Linked DNA regions of Homo sapiens: all the other regions are reported to be linked to region 2. The links are microRNA targets in miRTarBase. Many come from high-throughput screens and were not tested one by one. Region 2 holds a microRNA gene; each other region holds the end of a gene's coding sequence.
Evidence for each region. Region 2 holds the annotated microRNA hsa-miR-148b-3p (UCAGUGCAUCACAGAACUUUGU, at 1,590-1,611, opposite strand). A microRNA usually pairs through its seed, bases 2 to 8, with sites in the 3' UTR of a target mRNA and lowers its output. Matches are read on the target gene's strand: a 7mer-m8 pairs with bases 2 to 8, a 7mer-A1 pairs with bases 2 to 7 and ends in A, and an 8mer does both.

Region 1 (4,067 bases), not on the chromosome of region 2:
CTGAGTAATTTATGTCCATTCTTCTCTCAGGTCCACAAAAGGTGGCTCCGATTCCTCCCTTTCTGAGCCAGGGCCAGGTCGGTCCGGCCGCGGCTTCCTGTTCAGAGTCCTCCGAGCAGCTCTTCCCCTTCAGCTTCTCCTGCTCCTCCTCATCGGGCTTGCCTGCCTTGTACCAATGTCAGAGGAAGACTACAGCTGTGCCCTCTCCAACAACTTTGCCCGGTCATTCCACCCCATGCTCAGATACACGAATGGCCCTCCTCCACTCTGAACTAAGCAGATGCCATCTGCAGAAGTGCTGGTAGCATAAGGAGGATCGGGTCATAAGCAATCCCAAACTACCAACAAGAGGACCTTGATCTTGGCGAAAGCCCTCGGTGTGGCAGCTTTAGCCCTCCTCCAGATCACATGTGTGCAAATTATGGCTTCAGAGGTGGAAGATAAACAGTGACGGGGGAACAAACAGACAACAAGAAGGTTTGGAAGAAATCTGGTTTGAGACTCTGAACCTTAGCACTAAGGAGATTGAGTAAGGACCTCCAAAGTTCCCCGGACTCATGAATTCTGGGCCCTTGGCCCATTCTGTGCACAGCCAAGGACTTCAGTAGACCATCTGGGCAGCTTTCCCATGGTGCTGCTCCAACCATCAGATAAATGACCCTCCCAAGCACCATGTCAGTGTCGTACAATCTACCAACCAACCAGTGCTGAAGAGATTTTAGAACCTTGTAACATACAATTTTTAAGAGCTTATATGGCAGCTTCCTTTTTACCTTGTTTTCCTTTGGGGCATGATGTTTTAACCTTTGCTTTAGAAGCACAAGCTGTAAATCTAAAAGGCACTTTTTTTTAGAGGTATAAAGAAAAACTAGATGTAATAAATAAGATCATGGAAGGCTTTATGTGAAAAAAGTTGAATGTTATAGTAAAAAAAAAAAGATATTTATGTATGTACAGTTTGCTAAAGCCAAGTTTTGTTTGTATTGATTTCTTTGCATTTATTATAGATATTATAAAATAGTTTGTCTGTGCTTTTTTTTCCCTAAACAAATAACTCTAAGTTTCATTATTAAGCAGGCACTGATCAGAATGCAACCTAAATGATCATTTTTCTGTGCAATGAATGAAGCTGGAACATTAGTGTATATTAAAGGAAAAGGATGGCAAGAGGCAGCATGGATTTAGACATAGAAGACCCCAGGTGATTCCTTTTTTTCTCTTCCTTCCATAGTCAATCAAATCTCCTGAATTCTTGTTTCCGGAAACCTTTCATCCTCTATTCTCCATTCCTTTTGCACATGGGAGAGGCTTCCTAGGAGCTGATATCTGAGGTCCCTTCTCCATTCCATTGCGAGCAGACAACAGCCACAGAAATCTTCTTAAAGCACACTTCTGTTCAGATTCCTTCTTTGCTGCAAAGCCTTCTATTGTTCATTGTCTACCGGATAAAATACAGTTTTCTTCTATCATTTAAGTCCATATGCAATGAGATTTTATTTTGCTCCTCTGAACTTGCCTACTATAGTGGACTTCATGGAATTATGTGATGCTCGTGGCATTTTAATGTATCATTTAATAATTCTGGGGCACATAAAACTCAGGTCTCTGGCTTCTCTTCTGGTAGACAGCTCTGGTGCCCTAGTCCGGAGCACATATTCCTGCATGGCAGTAATTGCCGGAGCTTGTTGGCTGCTGTCCCTTCCAGAATTGGGGGAGAGAGAGAGAGTATCTCCTCTTTGTACTTGTAAACCTTCAACTTCTCTCAAGGTCTGTGTCACCCTAGCCCCAGAGGTATTTAAGTTTACAAATCCTGCTCTAAATTGAGTATTTAAACCAAACTGAGGCCCTTCACCTTGCCTGAAACTGCCGTCTGTGCTTTCCATAATGCAGGTAGTCTGAGTCCATCTCAACTAGGGTTCCTGGGGTTTGCTAGATTTTCCAAGTCCCGGGCTTGCTTCAGACCTCCTAGTTCAACCTCTGGGATGGGGCCTGGGAGCCGGCATTTTAAAGAGATGCCTGAGGAGACTTTATTCCTCCTAACTGCTGAAAAGCACTGCCCTCTGCTTCCTTAACTTCATTCCTCCTTGCCTGCCCCACAGGACTCAGCTCACAAGCCACCTCCTTCTTGAAAAATTTCCTGATCACTTTCACACTGTATTTAAGACTTCTCTCTACTACTCGGCTTCTTGCCGTCAGATTGTCTGTATCTTATGGCCCATGAACCCATCGTGTTCCACAGGGAACACGATGGATCGCCCCCCGCCCACTGTTATTTTATAGAGAAGACCACCTCGTGGTTAAAGTGTCCCATCTTCCCGCTTCTGGAGAGGCTGTGAGCAGCGGTGGCCATTGGCGTTGAAGGGTGCCCTGCACCCTCATCTGAGATGGAGCACTCTTCAGGCCTCGCTCTTCCCTCACTTTCCTGTCACTCCTCCCGATATCTGGAAGGAGAAGTCCTCCCTCCAGAGCAGTTTTGCCCTTCAGGGGGTATGGAAATCCCACACAATGAAGAGTGTCATCGTGGAAAAGGCAAGCGCAAAGAGACTTCAGAAGCATTTCTTCTCCACATCACTGTCAACTGACTTCCTCCTAGGCATCTCCCGTCACTGAAGAATCAAATGGCAAATGTTGCTGAGAAAAACATTTGGTTTCAATTAAGAAAAATCTTAGCATACATTCCATCTGTGCCTTTCTCAAAACCCTGTGAAACCCCCAAAGGGGTGTAGAACATCCATTTCCATTACATTTTTGAAGATTTAAACAACAGAACCTTCGAAGAAGTAGGGAACCCTGGTGAGTGCAAACATTGAACCCATGAGGTCGTGGCTCTTCCCCAGATGATTGATTGGCCAATTTAGCAAGGGCCACGCCAGACGCAGATGATGGGGAGATGGGTATGGGGCCATGAGCATCCTCACCCGCACCCAGCGGTTGCTCTGGCAACAGAGAGAAAAAGCTTCATGGAAGGGATGTGGGATGGTTTAAAGAATAGTAAGGAGATAAAAGGACACTGATGGCTGCTGAAGAAGCTTCCATTTCTGCAGTGAGGACAGTCAGGAGCCCTGCTGTGGCCTGGAGAGAGGGAATGGTGTCCCAAGTGAGTGCTGGGTGAGGAAGGGCATAAAGAGACCATCCACTGACCAGGAAGGATGGGAAGGGAAGGGTTAATAACATGGTGGTAAGGAGATTTGCACAAGCAAATGGGAAATATTAGAAAAGTGAACAAAGAATCCAATATAGCTAACATGGAAAAATAAGGCATTAGAATCTAAAAGTAGTAACTTAATAAGAAATCCCGGGAGAAATGAAAGGATTTTTTGGGAAATGATGGCTGAGGAGCAGGAATGTCCCTCCTGGAAAATGGACCCACAGTAGCTTCTCTTGTTTTTGTAAGAAGTGAGAAGAGAAGACTTCTGAAGGCCCAGATGGGAAATTCAACATGCCGAGGCCTGAGATTTACTATAAAAATGCAGGTTAGAGTAGATTGATTGATAGCCTACACCCCAGGGCCAAATATTAAGACATTATAGCTACAAAACTTAATTGACAAACCACATAAAAGATCGTAAAGCAAAGAATAGTGGAGAGAGATGATTTATGAAAGCTAATCGTGTCCAGAAAAGCCGGGCCTCCCAGGGCTGGTCTGGGCTGCCTGAAAGCAGCCCAGTGGACAGGTTCCTTGTTCGGTGCAACCAATTCACCAGCACCATCGCCAAACCTTCACAGGGGATTGTGGAGAAATTGAAATATCCTGAGTGTGTACCAGATAGGTCCAGAAGTGCCTGGGGAGAGCAACAGACATTAATCTCTCAAGTAGTTCACTGAATGCCCACTATGTGGCAGGAACTGCTCCAAGCTCCCTCGGGGAGTCCTCTCGGGGAGGACCTCAGAAGTTCTTGTGTTTGTTTGTTTTATTTTTATTTTTTATTTTACTTTAGGTTCTGGGATACATGTACTGAACGTGCAGGTTTGTTACACAGGTATACATGTGCCATGGTGGTTTGCTGCACCTATCAACCCATCATCTAGGTTTTAAGCCCTGCATGCATTAGGTATTTGCCCTAATG
Region 2 (4,067 bases):
TCAACCCTGTTTGCGGGGGCAGAGGAGGGCAGTTCAGAATGGAAGTAAAAGGAACCCAGTCTTTTGACAACAAGGTGATGAGGAACATAAGCTTTCCCTACTTGAATTCTTGAGGACTGCAATTTTTGTTTTGTTCGCTGGTTTGTCCCATTTGTCCAGAACAATGCCTGACACATACTAAACTCTCAATATTTGGTGAATAATTCAGAGAATAAAGGAAGTTTGAGAATAAAGTTAAAATACCTTGACGCAGTATGCATCTAAGGGACTACTTATAATTAGACCTCCACATATAAGTGGATTTTCTGATGTGGCCACTTTGGGTGATATTACTACCAACTTTATCCCTCCTCTGATAAACACTCCTTAGAGATGTCCATCCTGTATATATAACACTCTGGAATAAACAAGGCATGAGTAACTCCTCTCTCAAACTAAAGAACTTTGTTGCCTAGTGGAGGGAAGTCCTCTAGAGTCTAGTCTTAAAAGGTCACAAGTAGAAGCAGCTCTCCTAACTCCTAATTCCTCACAGAAAGATCTTCCTGTAAAGCAGGCTCAGTTCTATAACAACTTGGGTCCTCAATTCCAAAAGGGAGACAACAATGGGAATGAGTTTTCTTAATGGAAGAAAAGAAGTCCAAAAGGAACAAAATTTAGACGAAATCATTTTTTCCCACAACCTTTTCCTGGAAATCTTTGGCTCTGTTCCTCTATCCACATTCACAGCAACTTTAGAGAGCTGCCCATTAGTTTAAGCTGGGCATTAACCTGGCATAGGAAACTGGTTCTTGCAGCCATAGAGTTTGGCATCCCTAGAACCCAAAGAAAAGCAAAGCCCTAATGGCCCCCAGCCAACTGGGAGAGTCAGACAATGTCCTTTGTGGCCAACAGGGTGTGAGTGCCTACAACAGCCACACCGGCAAAGAGAGAACATATCCCTGGGTTCTGCTCTTGGTTCTTTTCACTGGCTTCCTAGAAGACATTATCAAAGAAACCCCAAAAATAGAAACATTGGATCTTCCTGGGAAGAATAAAAGACAGGCTAAGGAGGACAAGGATAAAGACTAGATTTGACATAGAGCTTACTGGAGCTCTCAAAAGGGAAAGAAGGCATTACAGAAAAGGCTGGTCATTTCAAACTTCCAAAGGAGGAAGCATACTAAATAAAGCTGAGAATTTAGGCAGGCGCTTAAATGCCGCTTCAATTCTCCATTCTGCTACAGCTGGAGCCAGCAGCTTCTTTACTTCTCCTGCCACCTCCTGACTGCAGCTGGTTCCACTTCAGCCTGGGGCTTTTACCTCTCAGGAGTGGGGAGGGCTATGCCATAAAACTAGCCAGTTTAAAGGCCCCAGAAGTCATTACTGATAATGTAATTTCATTTTAAGTTTTTGCAAAGGGCAAGTTTATAAATAACTCCCAGCTACTGAGAAATGGGCTTCCAGGACAATGGACTAGGCTTGACCTTGTAACACATTAAATGCTGACTGTTGAGAAAGACCTTATCAGCTTAGGGCCACACTGAAAGAATTTAAAAGGTCTATTCTTCCCTCCCACTCCCAAAATGGGTAGCTGCTAGAAAGCTTTCGAGACAAAGTTCTGTGATGCACTGACTTTCAGAGAGCCACAGCCTGAGTGTATAACAGAACTTCACCTCAAATGCTAATCGTGCTTGGAAATGATGTATAGGCAGATTGTTTTGTGGGAGATTGGGTGACTTAGACAGATTTTCATGTATTTATGTTTTTATTATCAAGAAAACAAGAATGCTGTCCTCAAGACAGGTGAAACACCACAGAACAAGCAACTAGGCTGCTGCAAATGAATCTTTGATCTCAGGGGCTTCTTTTTTTTTTTTTTTTTTTTTTTTTGCGACAGTCTCTCTCTGTCACCCAGGCTGGAGTGCAGTGGAGCAAACTCCGCTCACTACAACCTCCACCTCCCGGATTCAAGTGATTCTTGTGCCTCAGCCTCCCGGGTAGCTGGGACTACAGGCACACACCCCCATGCCCAGCTAATTTTTGTATTTTTAGTAGAGACGGGGTTTCACCAAATTGGCCAGGCTGGTCTCGAACTCCTGACCTCATGATCTGCCTGCCTCGGCCTCCCAAAGTGCTGGGATTACAGGCGTGAGCCACCGTGCCCGGCCTCAATCAGGGGCTTCTAAAGCCTGGTGAAAAGCATCAACATCTCCAAGAACTCTCTCCCCTAGCGCATAGAGGACTAGAGGGAAAGAGTCATTCCTAGTGCTGCCCCCTGTGGGCCTTCTCGGTGACCTGCAGCTTCCACAGGATTACAGTCATAAGCAAAAATATTTTTCAAAGGCAGCTCTGGATAAGAGCTTTTTTTTTTTTGAGACGGAGTCTCGCTCTGTCGCCCAGGCTGGAGTGCAGTGGCACGATCTCAGCTCACTGCAAGCTCCGCCTCCTGGTTCAAGCTCTCCTGCTTCAGCCTCCCGAGTAGCTGGGACTACACGCACCTGCCACCATGCCCGGCTAATTTTTTGTATTTTTAGTAGGGATGGGGTTTCACTGTAGCCAGGATGGTCTCAATCTCCTGACCTCGTGATCCGCCCGCCTCGGCCTCCCAAAGTGCTGGGATTACAGGCGTGAGCCACCGCACCCGGCAAAAGCTCTCTATTTGTGTGTCTTGTAGGACAAACTAGTAGAGATGGGCCCTGAAAAATAAGTGAATTAAGTCTGTTCACAATGTATATAGTAAGAGAACTCTTTGGGGTAAGATCTTAGTAAGCCACCAGAAGACTGGGAGAATATGTTTGGGGAAGGTAGAGAGGATACTTGGAAACTATAATGAATTATTTGATTCATTTAGGGGAAAAAACCAAGAAGCCTCTATGGAGGGAATTACAGGATGCCATCTACAGAGCTGAAAGAGCACAAATAAGAATATGGAGGCCAGGCGCAGTGGCTCATGCCTGTAATCCTAGCACTTTTGGAAGCTGAGGCAGGAGATCACTAGAGCCAGGAGTTCAAGACCAACCTGGGCAACACAGTGAGACCCTGTCTCTGCAAGAACTTAAAAAAAACAAAAATTAGCCAGGCATGGTGGCATGCACCTGTAGTCTCAGCTACTCAGGAAGCTGAGGCAGGAGGATCGCTTGAGCTTGGGAGTTCAAGGCTGTAGTGAGCTACAATTGCGCTACTGCACTCCAGCCTACACAAAAGAGTGAGACCGCCTCAAAAAAAAAAAGAAGCTGACTGAGATCACTAAAAAGTTCTTCATTGTCTACTTAAAAATAAATCCTTCCAGCCTGGCCAACATGGTGAAACCCTGTCTCTACCAAAATTACAAAACTTAGCCAGGCATGGTAGCAGACGCCTGTAATCCCAGCTACTCAGGAGGCTGAGGCAGGAGAATCGCTTATACCTGGGAGGCAGAGGTTGCGGTGAGCTGAGATCGCACCACTGCACTCCAGCCTGGGCGACAGAGCAAGACTTCAGATCAAAAAAAAAAAAAACATTCCCTAAGGCCATACCAAAAGGGCCTGATGTGGCATTACCCTGATGTGGCAATGGGTCTTGGTGAATTAAAAACTGTAACAAGATTCTCTTGTCTCAATCCTGTTTATAAAGTAAAACTAAGAAGGTAAAAACTAGAAGGAGAAATTCCTAGATACCACTCCCAGCTCCAAATGGCTAAGTAGGTATACTTCCTGACTCTGTGCCAACACTTTTTTTTTTTTTTTTTTGACAGAGTTTCACTTTGTTTCACTTTGTTGTCCAGGCTGGGGTGCAGTGGCACAATCTTGGCTCACTGCAACCTCCGCCTCCTGGGTTCCAGCAATTCTCGTGTCTCAGCCTCCTCAGTAGCTGGGATTACAGGTGACTGCCACCATGCCCAGCTGATTTTTTTTATTTTAGTAGAGATGGAGTTTCACCATCTTGCCCAGGCTGGTCCTGAACTCCTGAACTCAGGCAATCTGCCTGTCTCGGCCTCCCAACATGCTAATATTACAGGTGTGAGCCACTGCACCTGGCCTCTGTGCCAACTTTTATTTATTTTTTTATTTTTTTGAGACGGAGTCTCACCCTGTCGCCCAGGCTGAAGT
Region 3 (4,056 bases), not on the chromosome of region 2:
AGCATATAAACAGAACCAACGACAAAAACCACATGATTATCTCACTAGATGCAGAAAAGGCCTTTGACAAAATTCAACAGCCCTTCATGCTAAAAACTTTCAATAAATTAGGTATTGATGGGACATATCTCAAAATAATAGGAGCTATTTATGACATACCCACAGCCAATATCATACTGAATGGACAAAAACTGGAAGCATTCCCTCTGAAAAGTGGCACAAGACAGGGATGCCCTCTCTCACCACTCCTATTCAAAATAGTGTTGGAAGTTCTGGCCAGGTCAATCAGGCAGGAGAAAGAAATAAAGGGTATTCAATTAGGAAAAGAGGAAGTCAAATTGTCCCTGTTTGCAGATGACATGATTGTATATCTAGAAAACCCCATTGTCTCAGCCCAAAATCTCCTTAAGCTGATAAGCAACTTCAGCAAAGTCTCAGGATACAAAATCAATGTGCAAAAATCAAAAGCATTCTTATACACCAATAACAGACAAACAGAGAGCCAAATCATGAGTGAACTCCCATTCACAATTGCTACAGAGAGAATAAAATACCTAGGAATCCAACTTACAAGGGATGTGAAGGACCTCTTCAAGGAGAACTACAAACCACTGCTCAACGAAATAAAAGAGGATACAAACAAATGGAAGAACATTCCATGCTCATGGGTAGGAATAATCAATATCGTGAAAATCCCATGCTGCCCAAGGTAATTTTTAGATTCAATGCCATCCCCATCAAGCTACCAATGACTTTCTTCACAGAACTCGAAAAAAACACTTTGAAGTTCATATGGAACCAAAAAAGAGCCCCCATTGCCAAGTCAATCCTAAGCGAAAAGAACAAAGCTGGAGGCATCACACTACCTGACTTCAAACTATACTACAAGGCTATAGTAACCAAAACAGCATGGTACTTGTACCAAAACAGAGATATAGACCAACGGAACAGAACAGAGCCCTCAGAAATAATACCACACATCTACAACCATCTGATCTTTGACAAACCTGACAAAAGCAAGAAATGGGGAAAGGATTCCCTATTTAATAAATGGTGCTGGGAAAACTGGCTAGCCATATGTAGAAAGCTGAAACTGGATCCCTTCCTTACACCTTACACAAAAATTAATTCAAGATGGATTAAAGACTTAAATGTTAGACCTAAAACCTTAAAAACCCCAGAAGAATACCTAGGCAATACCATTCAGGACATAGGCATGGGCAAGGACTTCATGTCTAAAACACCAAAAGCAATGGCAACAAAAGACAAAATTGACAAATGGGATCTAATTAAACTAAAGAGCTCCTGCACAGCAAAAGAAACTACCATCAGAATGAACAGGCAACCTACAGAATGGGAGAAAATTTTTGCAATCTACTCATCTGACAAAGGGCTAATATCCAGAATCTACAAAGAACTTAAACAAATTTACAAGAAAAAAACAAATAACCCCATCAACAAGTGGGCAAAGGATATGAACAGACACTTCTCAAAAGAAGACATTTATGCAGCCAACAGACCCATGAAAAAATGCTCATCATCACTGGTCATCAGAGAAATGCAAATCAAAACCACAATGAGATGCCATCTCACACCAGTTAGAATGGTGATCATTAAAAAGTCAGGAAAGAACAGGTGCTAGAGAGGATGTGGAGAAATAGGAACACTTTTACACTGTTGGTGGGACTGTAAACTAGTTCAACCATTGTGGAAGACAGTGTGGCGATTCCTCAGGGATCTAGAACTAGAAATACCATTTGACCCAGCCATCCTATTACTGGGTATATGCCAAAGGATTGTAAATCATGCTGCTATAAAGACACATGCACATGTATGTTTATTGCACCACTATTCACAATAGCAAAGACTTGGAACCAACCCAAATGTCCATCAATGATAGACTGGATTAAGAAAATGTGGCATATATACACCATGGAATACTATGCAGCCATAAAAAAGGATGAGTTCATGTCCTTTGTAGGGACATGGATGAAGCTGGAAACCATCATTCTCAGCAAACTATCGCAAGGACAAAACACCAAACATCGCATGTTCTCACTCATAGGTGGGAATTGAACAATGAGAACACTTGGACACAGGAAGGGGAACATCACACACTGGGGCCTGTTGTGTGGTGGGGGGAGGGGGGAGGGACAGCATTAGGAGATATACCTAATGTAAATGATGAGTTAATGGGTGCAGCACACCAACAAGTCACATGTGTACATATGTAACAAACCTGCACGTTGTGCACATGTACCCTAGAACTTAAAGTATAATAAAAATTATATATATAAAATAAAATAAAAGAAAAGAAGTCAACTATGTCAAGTAATATACATGAATAAAATATAAATTATATAATTTTTTTCAAGGAATAAAATATTAAATAATCCACTCTTAGTTATAATTTTTAAGTTCATTCTGAAGCTGGTGTTCTGTTAATTATGGTAGGGCTGATTTCCTTGTTGATACCTAGATACATCTTGGGAACATTTCAGGACTCCAAGGCTAGAAGAAAAATCTTTAAAAGCTTCCAGATAGAAAAAATAAGTTATTTGATTTTCTTAAAAATGATTTTTTGACGATGTCAGTTATCTTTTCTAAAATTTAACTTTTTACAACATTCTATAATGAGACATTAACTTGATTTTTTAAAAATAGCAAATACATGATAAATATTTAAATTGAGTGTGGACTAAATATGAAGTGTGTGTGTGTGCACCTGTGTGCTTGTTACTGACATGAATTCCAACTACCAAAGAAAGGAGAGTCAAAGACTGATGTTTTATTTTATAACAATATTTAATTATTGGACATTTTATGCAAAATAGACTTTGATCAGATAGCATTTGAGCTCGTTGCAAATAGTCAACATGCAAAAGGAATTAAGAATAATATTCATGCAAGGATACAACATTACTAACTAGACTATTTTTAAAATAAAAAGCACTACCTAAAATCATCATATTACTACTTTACACACATGCATTTCTTTAATTATTTTTTTACATAGATTTCTCACATCTATTCTTGCTTCATGGGTTTCAGTTTTATAATTTTTGGGATTGAAGACATAGTGTCTACATTAAGAAACTGACATGTTTACTCTGTATTTACTCACTGCCAAAAGCTTTTTGGGAATCCTGGAGAAGATCTATTTGATTATCTGTTTTATGAGTAACATCCCCTCAATTAATCATTGAAGAGCAAGAGACAGCATCAGACATAAGGACATTTTTACACTGGCCATTTGGGACTTAGGATCTATTCACTCTGGTCCATACTCTCTTTGGTTACTCCCTTTTTGTTTATTTGGACTTGATTCTGGATAATGGGAAAGGAAGCTGGAGAGCAGGAATGGTGTTTAGACTTCAGGTTCCAGCTGGCTGTGGTCACCATGTCCATGGAACTGATTGTCAAGTTATCTCGTCTTAGGGACCTTTAAAAAAACAAGTTTGAGGGCACTTAATAGTTTATTTCACTGTTCTTGTCAGAAATTAGTATTGAAACAAAAATATTTTTGGTAATTATTATTCAAGCTTGGAAAGAACTGGGAATAAAAATTGTTTGAGTTGAAGAAAAATAAAAGAATAAAACATTTATCTCACCCACCCTGACTACATTCCCGCTTTTCCAAACTCATTCTCTCTGAAATTTTGCTGAAAACACCCAAACATCTATCCCTCTCAAGCTTTGCGGGAAATAATTTGGGAAAAAGTATCAATAGAGTAAAGAGAAACTGGAGGATAGAAAGAGGCTGATGTTTCGTTATTCATAGGACCTCTTGATGTGTACTCACTCAAATTCTTCAACCTTATATATTTCACTTGCTTTTGACTACTTTTATGTATAGCATAGTTTAAAATTATGTTAAATTTCTTTTGTTTTTTGTTTTTAACCAAATAAACCTGTGGACTATATATGGTATAAAATCTCACACTATTTCTGAGAATTCATATTATTTTTACGAATAGCTTTTTATGGCTCTCAGAGGAGTGAAACAACATTTACTAACTAAATTCTTTTCTTTCTGTCTTTCTGTCTTTCTGTCTG
Region 4 (4,067 bases), not on the chromosome of region 2:
TGGGAATCTTTTAGCTCAGGATGCTGTGTTCCATATTCACGACGGCATTTCCATGCTCGTGAGGGCAACCAGTAGTAAGTAGCATGGCACTTGGGAAAGAATTCCAGCCGGTTACATTTAGGGTCCTGGAAAAAAAATTCCAAACCAAGAATACTTTGTGGCTAGTGCCATTTAGCATTTTCGTCTAGTAGAGATTTCTTTTTTCTTTTTCTTCTGTGTGCCCTGGCTTCTCAGGAACTGTTCTCTGTGCCGGACGAGCACCAATGGCTCCGCTCCTCCTTGCTGCCTCCCTGAGTCGCTCTGTCCCTGGGACTGCTAAGGGCACGGGGCCTGTAGTGACGGTTCCGGCCGCCAGGGAAGATGCTGGGTACGTTTTGTCCTTTCCAGTCTGGTTCCTGCCTCCCAAACCCAACTCCCGTGTTCTCTCTGGGAGCCCTGCAAGAACAGGGCTTTAGAACGTTCTCCTTTTTTGGCCGGGCACGGTGGTGGCTCACGCCTGTAATCCCAACACTTTGGGAGGCCAAGGCAGGCGGATCACGAGGTCAGGAGATCAAGACCATACTGGTCAACATGGTGAAACACCATCTCTACTAAAATACAAAAAATTAGCCAGGCGTGGTGGTGTGTGCCTGTAGTCCCAGCTACTTGGGAGGCTGAGGCAGGAGAATTGCTTGAACCTGGGAGGCAGGGGCTGCAGTGAGCTGGGATGGTGCCACTGCACTCCAGCCTGGCGACAGAGCAAGACGCCAGACTCCATTTCAAAAATAAAATAAAGTTCTCCTTTTTCTTCAGCCTTCCTGGTCTGCCTGGGATTAATGAACTTGGCCACTCTTGGGACTCCTCCCCTTGCTAGCCTGCAGGTTCACCTCTCCCAAGAGTCCAGGGTCTGTATCGCCCCTTTCCTTCTCCCCTTAACTGATTTATCTTGCTTTGGGATAATACCACCCCCTCCCTCCCCACGACCAGACAAGCCATGTGTGCCCCGCCCTCTCCTAAGCAATTTACAGGAATGAACTCCTGACTCTCCAAACAACTGTATGGGACAGGCACCCCCCCATCTTCCAGAGAACAGCATGCAGGCTCAGAGAGGTGAAGTGACTTGCCCATGGTCACACTGCTGGGGAGGTGGAGAAGCCAGGATGTAGGCTGGCTTAACTGTGCTGCTATTCTGCCTCATGGCATTTAGTTTGAAGAGAAGGGGCTTCAGGACAATACTAACCTAGGTGCACAGGTTGTCCTTCCCGTTGCTAAGGAGCCCTAGGCAAGTCAGTTAATCTCAGAGTCTGTTTCATCGGCAAAATGGGCCTGAATTTCTTCCTGATTCACTGGGTAGTTTGTACAGATGAAATGTGATCACAGCTGCCAATAAACCTGGTCCCACAGTGACGTGGACAGCAGCCTCCTGCAGCACCACTGCTCCGCCCGGGCTATGAGAAGATGGGCACTGGCAGGGAGGGTGGCAGGCAGTCCCAACAGCTGGGGCTCCAGGCTGATAGCAGTGGCTGAGAGGGAGTCATCCCAGATCTCAGGCTATCCCACCCATCTCATCCCAGAGGGCACCATATGTCTCTCCACCACATAGTCACCTGTCTCCCTGACTGTGTTCCACTGTCACTAGAACAAGAGGATCTGGGCCTGCCAAGCTCCAAAGACAGCTCATCGTGAGGAGGAAAAGTGACTTTACAAAAGCAATGTGTGGTGGCTGTTAAACTGCTGCATCTTCTATCCGCCTTCACACCATTCTCACGCACATACACATGCGCACACACATGCCTACATGCACACACATAGGCATGGGCGCACACACAGGCATGCGCACACATGCGTACATGCACGCACACAGGCACGCACACACACAGGCATGCATACACACATGCGCGCACACACACATGCGCGCACACACACACACTTGCTGCAGGGGATCCCACCACCAAAGTCCATCCTCCACCCGCCTCAAGGGAGCCAAAGTCTGTTCAGAAAACAAACTCCAACACGTCTAAAAGAAAATAACAAAAAAACCAAACTTTACTTGCATTTAGCCATTAATAAATAATTTACAGTATGTACACGCGGTGACACTCCACACAGGTCGCAGACACGTGGACGCAGTGAGGGGTCCCCACTTCCAAGCAGAACGTGAGCAAACACAACCAAAATAAAGTGCTTCACTTTTTACTTCCAACATAGGGACCAACTAAAACCAGCAGGGAGAGGGAGGGGCCGGGCCCCGAGCGCCCTCCCACCCGCCCACACACGGTTCTGGCAGAGGGAGCAGGACCTCTTGGAGGGAGGGGGAGACACACGTTCTGCAGCCTCCTGGCCAGTGTATGAGAGGTCCCTGGGGAACAGCAGAGGGGCTGCCGATGGGTGGGTAGGGTGTGGAGCTGTAGGGCTGCTGGCAGGATCACCCTCCAGGGCCTGGCTGCACTTTTGGGAGTGAAGCCTGGCTTTGTGCTGTGGGCACAGCAGCACAGGTGGGACTGTTCTGGGCCCCTGGATGAGCACCCTGGGCTGAAATGAGGCGGGAGCCAGCGGCAAGTCTCTCCTGGCTGTGTGGCCACAGGGCTTAAGGGAAGAGATTAGAGGTTGAAGACCCTGCCAGGGATGCTCAGAGCTGAGAGTCCTAAGACCCTGCTCCTCTCCCCAGACTCCAGACGTGGATGGACCGGGCTGGGGGCTCTTGGGGTTGTGAGGAGGAAGCAGAGGATCAGGGCAGGCCAGCTGGCCCCATCCACTGGGTCTCCTGCCACACCCTGGGGCCCAGGCACCCCTGCCCAGGAGCTCTTGCATCTGCAGGAGAGAGAGGAACAGAAGTCAAGGATCTCTTCTCTGTTTAGACATTTAGAACCAAGCACTTCGACTTTCTAAGCACAGGGTGGAAGGGGCAGGGGCCCAGGCCAGAGACGGGCAGCTGAGCAGGTGCCTGAAAACCGGGACCTGCACTGGTACCCACAGCAGCCAGGTGAACATGGGCAGGGAGGCCACAGGCCAGAAGGCACCAGGCGGGCACGACCTACTGGCCAAAAGGTTCCAGCAGTCTGCTAAGGTGCCAAGCAGCGCCCCGGGGTTGCCCTGCCTGGGGCCAAGCCCCAAGGATGCCTCCCTGTGTGGCTGGGGTGTCCCCGCTGGCCTAGGGGGATCGAGTGTGCTCTCGTGTAAGAGTGTGTGCGTGCGTGTGGCGGGCACAGGGGGCCCCACGGATCGGCGAGCAGCAGTCGGCCGGGCCTTTCAGTGCATTGCGAGGGGGAAGGAGCTGACTCTGACGGTTCCCAGTGTGTCTCTGGTGGGGGTGGGGGGCTTCAGCCTGAGGGGATGTTTCACACATTCACACTGCAGGGGCGGGGCGAGGGGAGCTGCTCTCCCTCTCACACAGCTCTACTGTCAAACATCATGGCACCAGTCACCACAACCTTGTCACGTGCACTAGAAGGGGAGGGGTCCGTGCCTGAGCCCTTGGCAGCAGGCGGTCCCTGGCGTTCTGCGGGGCCATGGTGGACACGCCAGGAGATCTGCACCCCGTGGGCGGTCCCAGCCCACACATGGGGAAGCCGAGAGGACGGAGCCCGCGCCTCCCTCCACATCTACGCGTCTAGCAGAACACAGGGAGCAGGGCCAGGAGCGGGACGAGGGCGCCCAGGAGGGGCCGGGGGGCCAGGGGCAGCCCCGCAGCCGCCCTGCCTGGCAGGTCCCGAGTCCTCTCATACAGGTGCAGTTTGTCTTTGTTGGAGTGGAGCATCTTGACATCCTCCAACGCGTAGTAGGCGGCCAGTGTGAAGTTCACGTCGCCCGTGGTGAGGAGGTCGAAGACGCAGGCCTGGTAGTACAGGTCCTCCACCGGCAGCTTCTCCTTGCACTTGGCCACGGCTGTCTCGTATGGGAAGGTCTCGGGGGCTGTGGGTGCAGGGCTGGCGGCTGCCAGCCTGCGGGCACCGGTGCCCTCAGCATTGGTGTGGAAGGCCTGGAAGTCGATCTGCTGGTTGAGGGGGCAGCCCCGCAGGCAGAGGTAGAGACCCTGGCTGTCCCAGTCCTCCACAGCATTGACCACTTCCTCTGGCATGCGGACGGCA
Region 5 (4,055 bases), not on the chromosome of region 2:
ACAGGGTTTCACTCTGTCACCCAGGCTGGAGTGCAGTGGCACCATCTCGGTTCACTGCAGCTTCAACCTCCCGGACTCCAGCAATCCTCCCACCTCAGCCTCCCAAGTAGCTGGGACTACAGGCATGCACCACCACACCCAGCTAATTTTTTGTATTTTTTTGTGGAGTCAGGGTTTCCACATATTGGCCAGACTGGTCTCAAACTCCTAGCCTCAAGCAATCCACCTGCCTCAGCCTCCCAAAATGCTAGGATTGCAGGTGTTAGCTACCAAGCCCAGCCTAAAACAAGATTCTTTACAATGAAATGGAGATGATGTTAAATAAATGCTTTTATTCCAAGCTGTTAACCCACAGGTCCTTGAGGTACTTTCTGGAGGCAGCAGGGGTGAGCTGACCACCAGTGATGAACAGAGGCCTCCACACAGCCAGTGACCTAATTAGTCACCTTCAAGGGTGACCTGAACTCACAGATTTGTCGGTTCTTGGGAAACTGCATAAAGATGTCTTCTAAGAGCAAAGTGAGATTAAGTGTCCCTTCAGTTCCCAGATCCTCCAAATGTTCTCTGCTGCTGTTTCCCCAGCAGCGATTCTTCCTGCCATGTCCTTTCTCACTGACATTCATTTTCTGACTCTCCCTCCCACAGGGATCGCCAGTGGAAGTTCATAATGTGCCGGATGACTGAATACGACTGTGAATTTGCAAATGTTTAGATTTGCCACATACCAAATCTGGGTGAAAGGAAAGGGGCCGGGGACAGGAGGGTGTCCACATATGTTAACATCAGTTGGATCTCCTATAGAAGTTTCTGCTGCTCTCTTTCCTTCTCCCTGAGCTGGTAACTGCAATGCCAACTTCCTGGGCCTTTCTGACTAGTATCACACTTCTAATAAAATCCACAATTAAACCATGTTTCTCACTTTTCACATGTTTCATAGCAACTGCTTTATATGACTGATGATGGCTTCCTTGCACACCACATATACAGTGCGCATGCTTACAGCCGGGCTTCTGGAGCACCAGCTGCAGCCTGGCTACTGCTTTTTACTGCAGAATGAACTGCAAGTTCAGCATAGTGGAGGGGAGAGGCAGAACTGGAGGAGAGGTGCAGTGAAGGTTCTCTACAGCTAAGCCTGTTTGAATGATACGTAGGTTCCCCACCAAAAGCAGGCTTTCTGCCCTGAGGGACATCTTCCCACTCCCCTGCTCCACATGAGCCATGCATGCTTAGCAATCCAAGTGCAGAGCTCTTTGCTCCAGGAGTGAGGAGACTGGGAGGTGAAATGGGGAAATGGAAGGGTTTGGAGGCAGAGCTGAAAACAGGGTTGGAAGGATTTCCTGAATTAGAAGACAAACGTTAGCATACCCAGTAAGGAAAATGAGTGCAGGGGCCAGGGGAACCCGTGAGGATCACTCTCAAATGAGATTAAAAACAAGGAAGCAGAGAATGGTCAGAGAATGGGATTCAGATTGGGAACTTGTGGGGATGAGAGTGACCAGGTTGAACTGGGAAGTGGAAAAAGGAGTTTGAGTCACTGGCACCTAGAAGCCTGCCCACGATTCCTAGGAAGGCTGGCAGACACCCTGGAACCCTGGGGAGCTACTGGCAAACTCTCCTGGATTGGGCCTGATTTTTTTGGTGGGAAAGGCTGCCCTGGGGATCAACTTTCCTTCTGTGTGTGGCTCAGGAGTTCTTCTGCAGAGATGGCGCTATCTTTCCTCCTCCTGTGATGTCCTGCTCCCAACCATTTGTACTCTTCATTACAAAAGAAATAAAAATATTAACGTTCACTATGCTGAAAATATTCAGGGTCAGTTTTTGCTCTCTACTCTTTCCCTTGCTGATTATTTATCCATTCATTCTGAAAATCCTGGTTAGCATTGTGGTTTGTGCCAAGCACCATGCAGACCCCAGGAATAAAATGATGACAATGACAGAGTGTGGTGGGGGAATCAGATATTTAAGACATAAAGTGCTAAATGCTTTACTTAAGATTAAACAAAGGAAGGAATCACATTTCTTGGCCTTTGAGTTCAGCCTAATCTTTTCTCAGCATCCTTCAACCTTCCTCATCCCAAGATGTCACATGAATTTTTAACCACAGGAAGTCCCTCTTTTCTTTATCCACAGCAGATTGCCTTTTTTTTTTTTTTCTGATCCATGCTGCTCTTCCCTCATCCTCTCTCCCAGTGGACCCAGAAGAAGAGCCAGCCAGGCAAAACCACAGGGATCGCGTACCTTGCCATACACCCCCTCTAGGTGGTCAAGAAGGTGACTCTCAGCCAGTGGTGATGGTATTTCCCACGGCAAGATCCCAGCATTGTGATGGGGAAGGCAGGGCTAAGGATATCTTCTCCTGCCTTAACTCCTAAAACACTTTTTCATATTAGAGCTTTGCTTTATTTCCTCCATGTCATTGTTTCTGACTCTCTGGCAATTTTAATTTATAATAAGATGCTTCGGTGTTATTTTTCACAAAGGGAGCCATTAATATTTTAGCAATTTCAGCCTGGTTCAGGATGGAAACCAGGAAATAGCCTTAGTTGGGTATGTGGAGCACAGCAGGAAAGGAGACAAGCAATGCTGATTGGCTGACTTGGCATCCATGAAGAAAGCAAATGGCTGGTGAGAGGATGGGGAGCTGGGAGGGTGCAGGGAGCATGGCTGGGGGAGGAGAGGCTGCAGCTGGGAGTAGCCAGGAGACTGCAAGAGGACATAAGTCAAGAAAAAAAACTTCTTTAAAGCAATTCAATAAATAGTGCCTGTGCCAAGTGGAATAAAAGGAGTTTCTACTAAGAAGAAAACTATTATTTGCACGTAGATAGGCCAAGGACAATGACAGAAAAGACATTGTCAACTTGGTTTGAATCTGAATAATTATACTTTATGTTATAGGTCTTTCAATAAGAACTAAGTGTCAGAGTGAATACTAAATCCCAGATCTGGTAACTGCAAGTTTTGTTCTCTGTTTTTTCATTACTCCAAACTTTCTACTAACTTGCTCCACAGTCTTGGATAAGTCACCTCTCCTTTCTAGGCCTACTGTTTAAAATGAGGACATTTATCTAGGTAACCATTGTGGTTTCTCGCAATTCTAAGAATCTCTGAACTCTATCACCTCCTGAATTGTTTATAAAGGGATTTTCTAAGGCATTTTCTTCCAGGAAAGGAGCCTGGAACTAAAGATGATAACCTAGGGCCTACCGCTGGCTCTGACAGAGGGTGGCTGTGTAAGATTAGAGAAATCCCCAAGCCCCCTTCCCCTCATCTGCCCAGTACAGGTAGGAATTCCTTTCTAAACAACTTTACAAGATGCTGGCCACATACAATGAGATAATAGAAAGAGGAGATACATGATTCCTGCCTCACAAGGCCTTCAGCCTAATGGTGAGATGAGAAGATAGATGATGACAATAACTGCAAGAAAGTTTCCTGAGGAAGCCGAGTCTATGCTTGGCCCTGAAGGACAAGTAGGACTTCTGAGGTGAGTAGAAAAGACTGTAAGCTCTGGCGTCAGACTTCCTGGACACAAATCATGGTCCTGTCACTTCCCAGCTTTATGACCTTGGCCACGTCACCTACCTTTCCTGAGACTCTATTTCCTTACCTGTAGAAATATAGTACTTACAACACAGGGTTACTGTAAGAATTAAATGAGATCACATAGTGTCTTGCATATAATAAGTACCCAATAAATGTAGTCAGAGAAGGAAAACAGTGTCAGTATATATTGGAAATAAAATTCCTTAGGTAAGCCGGATTTTAGTAAACGTCAATAATAGGAAACATTTATCAAGCAAACTTAAGTCCCACTTACATTTGCTCAGTAACTGAATCAATAAATTATCAAGTGTTTATTATATACCAACCATTTTACTAGGCACAGTTCCTGCATTCTGGAGAATTATAAACTAAAGGAGTTAGTCAAGCAAACAAACCGTGACAGTACAGTTTGATAAGTCAAGGGCAGGCGGCATTTCAATAGAAGGCGGTGAGAGGTCAGGATAGGAAAGGGGATGGTAGAATTTAAGGCAATGGAAATGATATTATGGAAG
Region 6 (4,067 bases), not on the chromosome of region 2:
TCGAGTCTCTCACTCTCTCGCACAACAACATGATCGCTCTCAAGCCGGTGCTCCAGGCCTGGTTGGAGGAGGCCGAGGCCGCCTACCGAGAGAAGAACAGCAAGCCAGAGCTCTTCAACGGCAGCGAACGGAAGCGCAAACGCACGTCCATCGCGGCGCCGGAGAAGCGTTCACTCGAGGCCTATTTCGCTATCCAGCCACGTCCTTCATCTGAGAAGATCGCGGCCATCGCTGAGAAACTGGACCTTAAAAAGAACGTGGTGAGAGTCTGGTTCTGCAACCAGAGACAGAAACAGAAACGAATGAAGTATTCGGCTGTCCACTGATTGCGGCAGGGCGCAGCGTCGGGAGCCGGGAGAGCCTAGTGCTCATCCCTCCCGGGTTCGGGGGATGGTTATCGGGAACTCCAAGGCGTTTCCTAGGCAGGTTAGGCTCTCTCCTCCGAAGCCACAGACTTTCCCCCTTTGTCCCGCCTGGTTGCCTCCGGCCTTCTCTCTCTTTCCTTTCTATTCCCACCAAAAAAATTTTGGCGCTGGGAAAATATTGCAGAAGGGCGGGCCTGAGTGTACTTGTGCTGTCCGTGGTGCTGAAATTTGCCCTCGCGCAGGGGCCGCACGACTTCAGAGCAGGAGCCCCAAAGCAGAGGACAGTCAATTGGCCCAACCGCCCGAAGCTAGGGTGAAAATGCCACTTTGCTAAGCGCGATTAGGCAAAGGGTGAAGGGATAAAAAGGAAGTGATCAATAATAACACAAAGTCTAGGATATCTAAGGGGGACACAAACATGCACTGGAGATTTATTAGAGTATATAAAATACATGTATGTTTCCAAAGGATAGCCTTATACTCCCTTCCTTGCCTAAATTCTATTCACCTTATCCTTTGGTTTGGCGTAAATTCTCATAAGGTAGCATGAAGATTAGGTTCAGGGAAAGTATGCAGGGAGTTGCGGGCTCCAAGTTGCCATTTTTTCGTGGTAAGTAGGGCTCCAAAACAGGTGGGCCCAGTCTGGCGACTGAAAATTCTGGGATCGCTTGGCTGTTTGTAATCAGCTGCCAGCACCAGCTCTGGCCATCTTTCACTACCTACTGGTGTTTGAGGGGTAATTACTGCTTGCTGGAGAGCGGGAGTTTGTAGTATTCATAACCGTTGAGGACTCTCTGACCCCAGCTCGCTGCTCTTGCCAGATTGCCAGCTCAGCGTGCAGTCGGCTGCTGGAAAACGACTGTAACTTCTCTGCATTATATGCAAGTCCTTTCAACACGTCTAACCTCCTTGCACTTTTGTTATTACTGTTGTTGTTAACATCGTTCATTACTATTATTTATTTAATTCTGCTTCTTTCCATTCCCTTTATGTGGGTGTCTTTCGGTGGAAGTTCACTTATAGTTTTGTGAGGGAAGAGGAGTGGGACCATGGGCCTGAACCCTTCTCACCCTGCCCCTCTAGCCCAAATTTTATTTTATTTTTTCGTTGTTTCATGTAGTTTGTGTGTTGCTGTGTGACCTTTGGTTTCATTCTCTGAATAGATACAAATAAAATATTAAGTTTTCTTTTCCCTTTACCCCTTGAATTAACTTCTAAAATAAATGCTTTATTTTTCAACCCGAATCAAAGTGGTTTTATTTTTTCTCAGAGGCTAAGGGGTACTAGCTTTGAAAAGGATTTAAAAAGGAGAACCCCAAAGGGTTGGGCTGTCAGTTTCTGCTGCCCAGCCCCCAGCCATCCCTTCTCCCCACTCCTCTTCCATGGCAGACTCACTTGGAGCTCCTCGTGGGAGACCCTGCGGCTTGTGTCTGAACTTGAGGTTTCAAGGCACTTCCTTCCATGCTTCCCTGCCTGCCATCATGAGACTCTGCTCAATTTGACTTAGCTAGTAAACTTTGAAGCCGGACTAATAGAAATTCGAGCCTCCAATGCCTCTGCTCACTGGCAGAACCATCCTGAGGCTAATTTCTTAATTTCTCTAAGCCTTCTCCAACAAGATTGCTTGTCTGCAGAATGAAGGGACCAACGCTTATTTCACAAGGTTATTGTCAGGACTAGGTGAGATTGTTTATTTAAGACGTCAACTAGTGCTTGGGTTTTGTAGGCAACAAATTATTTTAAAAGATTCAAAGGGCTTGAAAGGAGGTGAAATAATAGAGGCAAAGAGGGAGAAAAGTGTTCGCTGGGACACTCTAGTGGGACCCACTCAGAGTTCCAAATTCATCTGAAATTCTCATCCAGGTTGTTATTCACTCTGGGGTCCACCTCGGCTTCTTTGTGGGGGTACTGCTATAACTGCTGCAAAGCGCCTAGCATAGTGCCCTGTACATAGTAGGTGCTCCATAGACGCCAGCTCCCTGTTCTCTTTACGCTCCCTCTTTTTATTTGCGAGCTGTAGAAACGCCTTCCTGATTTAAAATTTAATGCTCCAAGTCCAGGAGTCATCTGCACATTTCCCTGCTTCGTCCTCAAAGAGTTGCGGGTCATCAAACCACGGGGCCGAAATTCGGAGCAGAGTGGGTTTGCCCTCCGCGCAGTGCGACACCCCCTACCGCATAAGCTAACTTGCGGATCTCCCCCAGCTCCCTGGGCCTCAGCCCTTTACCCCCGCCTTGCACAACAGCCCCAGCGATTCCTCCACCTCCCTCTCCATCGGGTGTCCTTTAATAATAAATGCCCTTATGCCATTACATTATATTGTGGGTTTTGAAAATTTAAAATACGGCTGATGCAATATTAATTGCCTATAGTGGTATAAAACACAGGGCAGGAGCCCAGCCGGGCTGCAGAGGAGACAACCGTGAGCGTCCCGCGCCGAAGCGAAGCGCTCCAGAAGGACGCGCTTTTGCGGGCTGCAAGGTTTCCTGCAGGTAAGAAGAGCCTTCGCATGTTCGGGCTCTGGAGAGAACCGGAAATCTGCCTCCATCCTCTTTTCGAAAAGTTCTCTGCCGTTATTTATTTAGTCTTTTTTTTTCTTTTAATTGACAACTGCAAAAGTTTGGGAGACTTTTACGGAGAGGATGAGAGGAGCTGCCTCCTGAGCGCAAGGTCTGCTCCAAGACGGTCCAGTAGCACTAGGTCCAGTCTCCGAGCCATGCCTCTGAGCCTAGTCTTCTTCAGGCGCCTGAGACGGTGATGCGCAGGAGTATTTTCACCAGTTCCTACGTGCAGGCCGGAGCTGCAGCCCGGTCAGCGAAGCGCTCCACCCTTTCCCTCCTCCTGAGTGCGCCGGAACGGCGCCGTCGCCTCACTCTTCGGCTTGCTTCAGGAAGCAACTGGAGATGTGGTTTCCCCAGGATTGTGTAGTCGCCTTTGCCACTCGTCTGGCGGAGGCACAGACCTCTCGGGGGAGGGGAGGTGGTACTAGCAGGTCTGGGGTTTACACAAGGCTAGTATGCATCCGAACCGTGTGACCTTGGACAAGTCATATCGCCTCTCTAAGCCTCTGCTGCCAGCTGTAAAACTTCCCCAAATTTATTTTGAAGAGTAATTGAGGGTGTTTCCTAAGATCACCTGGAGCAGGTTTTCATTTTCCTAATTCTGTCAGCTTGCAACACGTACGGTCCAAGACTCAGCTGAGAGTTTCTTTAACTTGTACCAAGAGAAAGTGAAGTCAGTATTTGGGGGTGTTTGCATGGAAACCTGCATCGGGCCTCCGGAGGGTGGGACTTTGAGAACTACCTGGCTGGAACAGGGGCTTCATCTAGAATGAGCTAGGCATACACATTCCAGCATGACTAAAGCCCTGGTAGGCAGAACTTGGTGGCAGGAGTCCTGGGCTCCTGAACGGTGTTATCTCTGGCCAGCGACTTCCTCTCTGTGTGCCTAAGTAGTCTCAGTTTTGTTCACTACTTCATGTCCAGCACTCTGCTCAAGGTCTGGCCTAGAGTGGCAGACACTAGATGTCTGTTGAATGAATGAATTAGGTTTTTGTTTTGTAAAATGAAAGCACCCCTTCCAGCCGAATCCCCTCTGGATTCAAGGGACTGTAGGGAGGAACAGAGCCATCAGGGATAGGCAAGTCTCCCTGGGAATGGGGATCGGGGCAAGGCGGTGGTCTGCATCACAGGCTTTCATTCA
Region 7 (4,067 bases), not on the chromosome of region 2:
AACTCTGAGCAGACAACAAAGCTTTGCTTGGTAATAAGTGAACTGTTGAATTGATAGGATAACTTGATTTTAATCCAGTCAGGTTGCTTTGTACAGCTGTAATTTAAAATATTCTTTAATAGATCGTATTATTTGAGTGTGGTTAAGTAAACTGCCATATTTCATCGAATCTAAGATGCCTTCCATTGTAAGACACAGCATTATTTTATGTACCACTGAGGGAAAATGCTGCCAGGTGTAATTTGTCATCAGTTGTAAGTTGCATCCTGATTTCAGAGATGCTAAAATGTGAAAGAAATGTGTATCATAGAAGATATGAAATATGGTATGTTAAAACCTATCATAAGTTTTTTAAAAAATATATACTCATAAACAAAATTTTGCCCAGAAAACATTAAGTAGTTCTTTAAGATAAGAGTACATTTATAATACCATGTGTAAGTAGATACTTGATGACTATTTTTGATGGGTATTTTATGTCTTTTCATAAAAAGAAACATCTTTGAAGGTTATTTTACATTGGGTTATATAGTTTGTTGGGCTATATAGAACATTAACTGTGAATATAACATTTAAGTGAATATTCATGTTAAAATTTTTTTTTAATGCATTTACATCCTAGATTTAACATTGTTGGGCCATTTAAAATGTGCATATTGGAGCAGAACATTAAATCTGTTTCCATTTTAGTCACAGAAAAGAAAAGCAGAGTCAGCTACTGAGAGCTCTGGAAAGAAGGATGTCAAGAAGGTGAAATCCTAAAGCCTAGAAATAAAGTTTTAAATGGGAAACTGCTATTTTCTTGTTCCCATCTTCAAATGCTAATTGCCAGTTCCAGTGTATTCATGGTACTCTAAGAAAAATCTCTTTGGTTTTGATTTCTTGCATATTTTATATATTTTACAATGCTTTCTACCTGAAATGTGTAGCTTTATATTTTATGGCATTCTAGTATTTTTGTGTACTGTATTTTGTGCATTTCATGTCTTCATCAAAATCCTCTCAGTCCTTGTTCTTTTGAAGCTTGTGCTGAGGTTTTAGCTTTTCTATGTTTTATATGCCGCTGCTTTGAAAGAGAACCTAGATTCTATAGTTGTATTATTGTTGTTTCATACTTTAAATTTATATGGCTGTGGAAAAACGAATTAAAATGTTTTGAGGAGAAAGACTTTTTCACTTCTTTGTTGCTTTCTTTTCTATTGAGTCTGGGCTTGTTTGTGTTACTGCATACTGTGATTAGCATAATAATTGTTTCTTTGAGGTCATCTAAATATTTTTTTCCTAAAGGAATAAAGGGTGAGGAAAGAAAAATATTAAAAAAGCTAATATTTGATACTGTGCTTGCTGTCAGTATGCATTACATTTAAATTATTCTCTATTCAAGTGGGAAAATATAATAAAGAAATGTCTATAAGAAATTTAATTATTTCCTGTTTTTTTGTGCAGTAGAAAGTAGTTGTGTTTACTGAATTGTATTGCTTACTACTGTGTATTTGGTTCAAAGTTAAAGCTTTGCTTGCTGACTTGTGTGTGATCTTCTGTCCCATAGAGCCAGTTCAGAAGGGCCTGGGTGTAACATGTAGAATTATTAACAATTAAGTTTAGAGTATGAAATAAGCACTATGTATGCAGAAGAAGGGGGGCTGTGTTTGTCAGGAATACAGTTATGCTCAGGTAACAATCTCAAAGTGTCAGAGGTTTTACACACCAAGAGTTTTTTTTTCTTGCTCACACTACATATCTCATGCAGGTCAGAGGGATGTGGGAATGGGAAGGGATCTGCTCCACACGGTAACTCAAGGTTCCAGGATGACTAAGGCTCTGCTATTTTGTGGCTGCAACATCTGGAACATGTGGCACTTAGGCTCTTTACTGCCTCGGCCTAGAAGTGACACATGTCACATCCACTTATATTTCATTGCCACCAAAGTAGTCATGTGGTCCTATATACCTGAAAGAGGGCTGGCAGATGTAGGGGAATAAATGGAACGTCTTACATTACTGCCTCTGTCACAGAGACTGTCAGTTCAGGAACGAAACTGGGTCTATTACATGAAACTTTTAGTGTGGAATTAATCAGAATCTGGGTCAGGTTGTAAGACAGCAGGGAAAATGGATCAAAATCTAGTGTGAAATACACAACCAATAAGTAAAGCTGAGAATGCAGGATAATGATGTTAGTTACCAAAACAAGGTCTGGACCACTAAAGAGTTGTCTCTTCCCCCTTCCAAGATCTTTTGCATTTCCTATCAGACTCTTTTTAGTGCACTACTAGCAAATTCTGGGTAGCCCCTGAGTGTTAGTCAGCATTCTTCACATCCTCAATCTTTTCATAGAAGTTCTCCAACAGAGGAATAGATCTTCTAGAACAACAACCCACTGTCTGTTGGACTCTTCTAAGTCTCCATTCATTGTCCAGATTTTATATCTCTTACTGCCATGTTTCTGGTTGGATTATTTTTTCTGTTTCCACTATTAGCACTTAGACTCTTGTACCCTGTTGGGGGTTGGGGTAAAATTGGGGTTCTATTAAGAGACAAGGTTGGGACGATATTATATCAGGGGACCCAGGGATACCCAAATCTGTCCTTGGCTTAGCTGCCTTTTCTGTAAGAAAGGGAGGCTAAGGTGAGCAAAGTAATACTTCACTAGCTGGTGCTTTGGCTGCAAACTCCAGAGCTCTTCAGCCCAAAATCTAACCTTGGAATTTTCCACTCCAATGATATGAATAGCTATAGTTAGTCATCTGCGCTGGAGAAAATGATACCAGGGAGTTTTACTGATAACCCCAAGTTCTGTGCAGTAGAAAACAGCCTAATGAGGGTCTGGACTCTGATCAGTCAATTCAGCCTTTCTTTTCCTAGGGAGCAGAGAAGATGGCAGGTGGGAGTGGGCACAGTTACGGTCTTTGAACCCCAGCATGGACATTTAACAATCTCTACTTCTCATTCTTTCTCTGGTAATCCAAAGGGTTCAGTAGCTGAGCTAATATGTGATTCTCTACCTTAGGGGAGAAAATCTGCAGGTAAGTTCTTGTAGCCTTTTCATGGAGTCATTTCCCTGTTCCATATCATGGCTGTTATGAGTCTTTCTTGGACCAAAGTGATGTGAAATTCAGCTCCCCAAGGCCTTCAATGGATGCTTCTGATGTCATCCTTAGAAACTTGTGAAATAGTTTTATTCAGGACTTAACTTAAAGACCACACTATATATTTAGTGAAAAATTCACCTATTCTACTTCTCATCTTAAAGTATGTATAGCTACACTGTTGAACCTAGCCTACCAAACAGACCCATACAGTGAATACCAGATGATAGCTTAGTCCAAATAATAGCATCTTGGAAGTACAAAAATGCCTCAAGTCTGAATATGAAACCCCTCTTATTGTTAAATTTCTACAGAGAAATTAAACTCCCATTGAAAATGTAAAAATCCCAAGAAGGAAATACCATTTCAAACAAGTGGTCTAGACATGGCTGCTATGTTGGGGAGAGAAACCTGGATTGTCAGTTTACTGTATCAGCTCCGTGGAGGCCAGAGGAAGCAGAAGAGAGTGCTATATATGTGAATGCAGTCTTATAAAGCATAATGACTCTGCCCACCAGCAAAAATGGTCCAGTGGATTACATTGGAATCTGACCCAACCTGATTCCTTGTTTGGAAAATGTACAAGGAGGAAAGTGAGCAGAGAAACAGAGACCCTGAGTGGCTTCCTTCACTCAAGGCCTCTATCTGTAAAAGATAAGGGGTGAATGGGATTTCCCAACAACCCTAGATCTTCCACAGAGGTCCTTGTAAAGCTCTGTCTTGATTCATTGGCTAATCAGGCTCTAATTTCCTTAGAATCAAAAGAAGGCAGGTGGTGAGCTCAGTAATCTCTTGTTTTCATCGTAGCCGTTGGTATGGCTTTATTGTATAGTTCTATCTTTTTCTCTGGCTACCTGGCCTACAGGTGTTATGCTATACTTGGATACTTTTCAGATTACACAGTTTTCTCGTGAAATATGTTTCCAAATTTGGTTCTTCGTCTAAGACTCCCAGTTAAGAGAAGTTTTTGAACTAAAA

Region 1: miRTarBase lists SYNE1 as a target of hsa-miR-148b-3p. The part of its 3' UTR that is shown has no 7-base or 8-base seed match.
Region 3: miRTarBase lists RHAG as a target of hsa-miR-148b-3p. The part of its 3' UTR that is shown has no 7-base or 8-base seed match.
Region 4: miRTarBase lists RGMA as a target of hsa-miR-148b-3p. Seed matches in the 3' UTR shown: 8mer at 3,229-3,236.
Region 5: miRTarBase lists DPT as a target of hsa-miR-148b-3p. The part of its 3' UTR that is shown has no 7-base or 8-base seed match.
Region 6: miRTarBase lists POU4F3 as a target of hsa-miR-148b-3p. Seed matches in the 3' UTR shown: 7mer-m8 at 785-791.
Region 7: miRTarBase lists SMARCA1 as a target of hsa-miR-148b-3p. The part of its 3' UTR that is shown has no 7-base or 8-base seed match.

The regions. Positions count from the first base shown.
Region 1 is chr6:152,118,640-152,122,706 of GRCh38, reverse strand. SYNE1 (spectrin repeat containing nuclear envelope protein 1) reads left to right here. Exons shown (of 146, transcript NM_182961.4): 146 at 31-1,020. The coding sequence ends at 271. It also overlaps a transcript of ESR1 not described here. Among named protein-coding and RNA genes, the nearest start is that of SYNE1-AS1, 260 kb to the left of the region's middle.
Region 2 is chr12:54,334,822-54,338,888 of GRCh38, reverse strand. MIR148B (microRNA 148b) reads right to left here and starts at 1,673; the gene lies at 1,575-1,673. All of the region lies in intron 1 of COPZ1 (coat protein complex I subunit zeta 1), which reads right to left.
Region 3 is chr6:49,602,389-49,606,444 of GRCh38, forward strand. RHAG (Rh associated glycoprotein) reads right to left here. Exons shown (of 10, transcript NM_000324.3): 10 at 2,787-3,442. The coding sequence ends at 3,425. Among named protein-coding and RNA genes, the nearest start is that of RHAG, 32 kb to the right of the region's middle.
Region 4 is chr15:93,041,409-93,045,475 of GRCh38, forward strand. RGMA (repulsive guidance molecule BMP co-receptor a) reads right to left here. Exons shown (of 4, transcript NM_020211.3): 4 at 1-4,067. The coding sequence ends at 3,590. Among named protein-coding and RNA genes, the nearest start is that of RGMA, 46 kb to the right of the region's middle.
Region 5 is chr1:168,693,206-168,697,260 of GRCh38, reverse strand. DPT (dermatopontin) reads left to right here. Exons shown (of 4, transcript NM_001937.5): 4 at 646-1,793. The coding sequence ends at 712. Among named protein-coding and RNA genes, the nearest start is that of DPT, 34 kb to the left of the region's middle.
Region 6 is chr5:146,340,119-146,344,185 of GRCh38, forward strand. POU4F3 (POU class 4 homeobox 3) reads left to right here. Exons shown (of 2, transcript NM_002700.3): 2 at 1-1,610. The coding sequence ends at 326. RBM27-POU4F3 (RBM27-POU4F3 readthrough) reads left to right here. Exons shown (of 20, transcript NM_001414499.1): 20 at 1-1,610. Among named protein-coding and RNA genes, the nearest start is that of POU4F3, 3.3 kb to the left of the region's middle. RefSeq lists a silencer at 505-705.
Region 7 is chrX:129,443,857-129,447,923 of GRCh38, reverse strand. It overlaps SMARCA1 (SNF2 related chromatin remodeling ATPase 1), which reads left to right. Exons shown (of 25, transcript NM_001282874.2): 25 at 691-1,418. The coding sequence ends at 762. Among named protein-coding and RNA genes, the nearest start is that of SMARCA1, 78 kb to the left of the region's middle.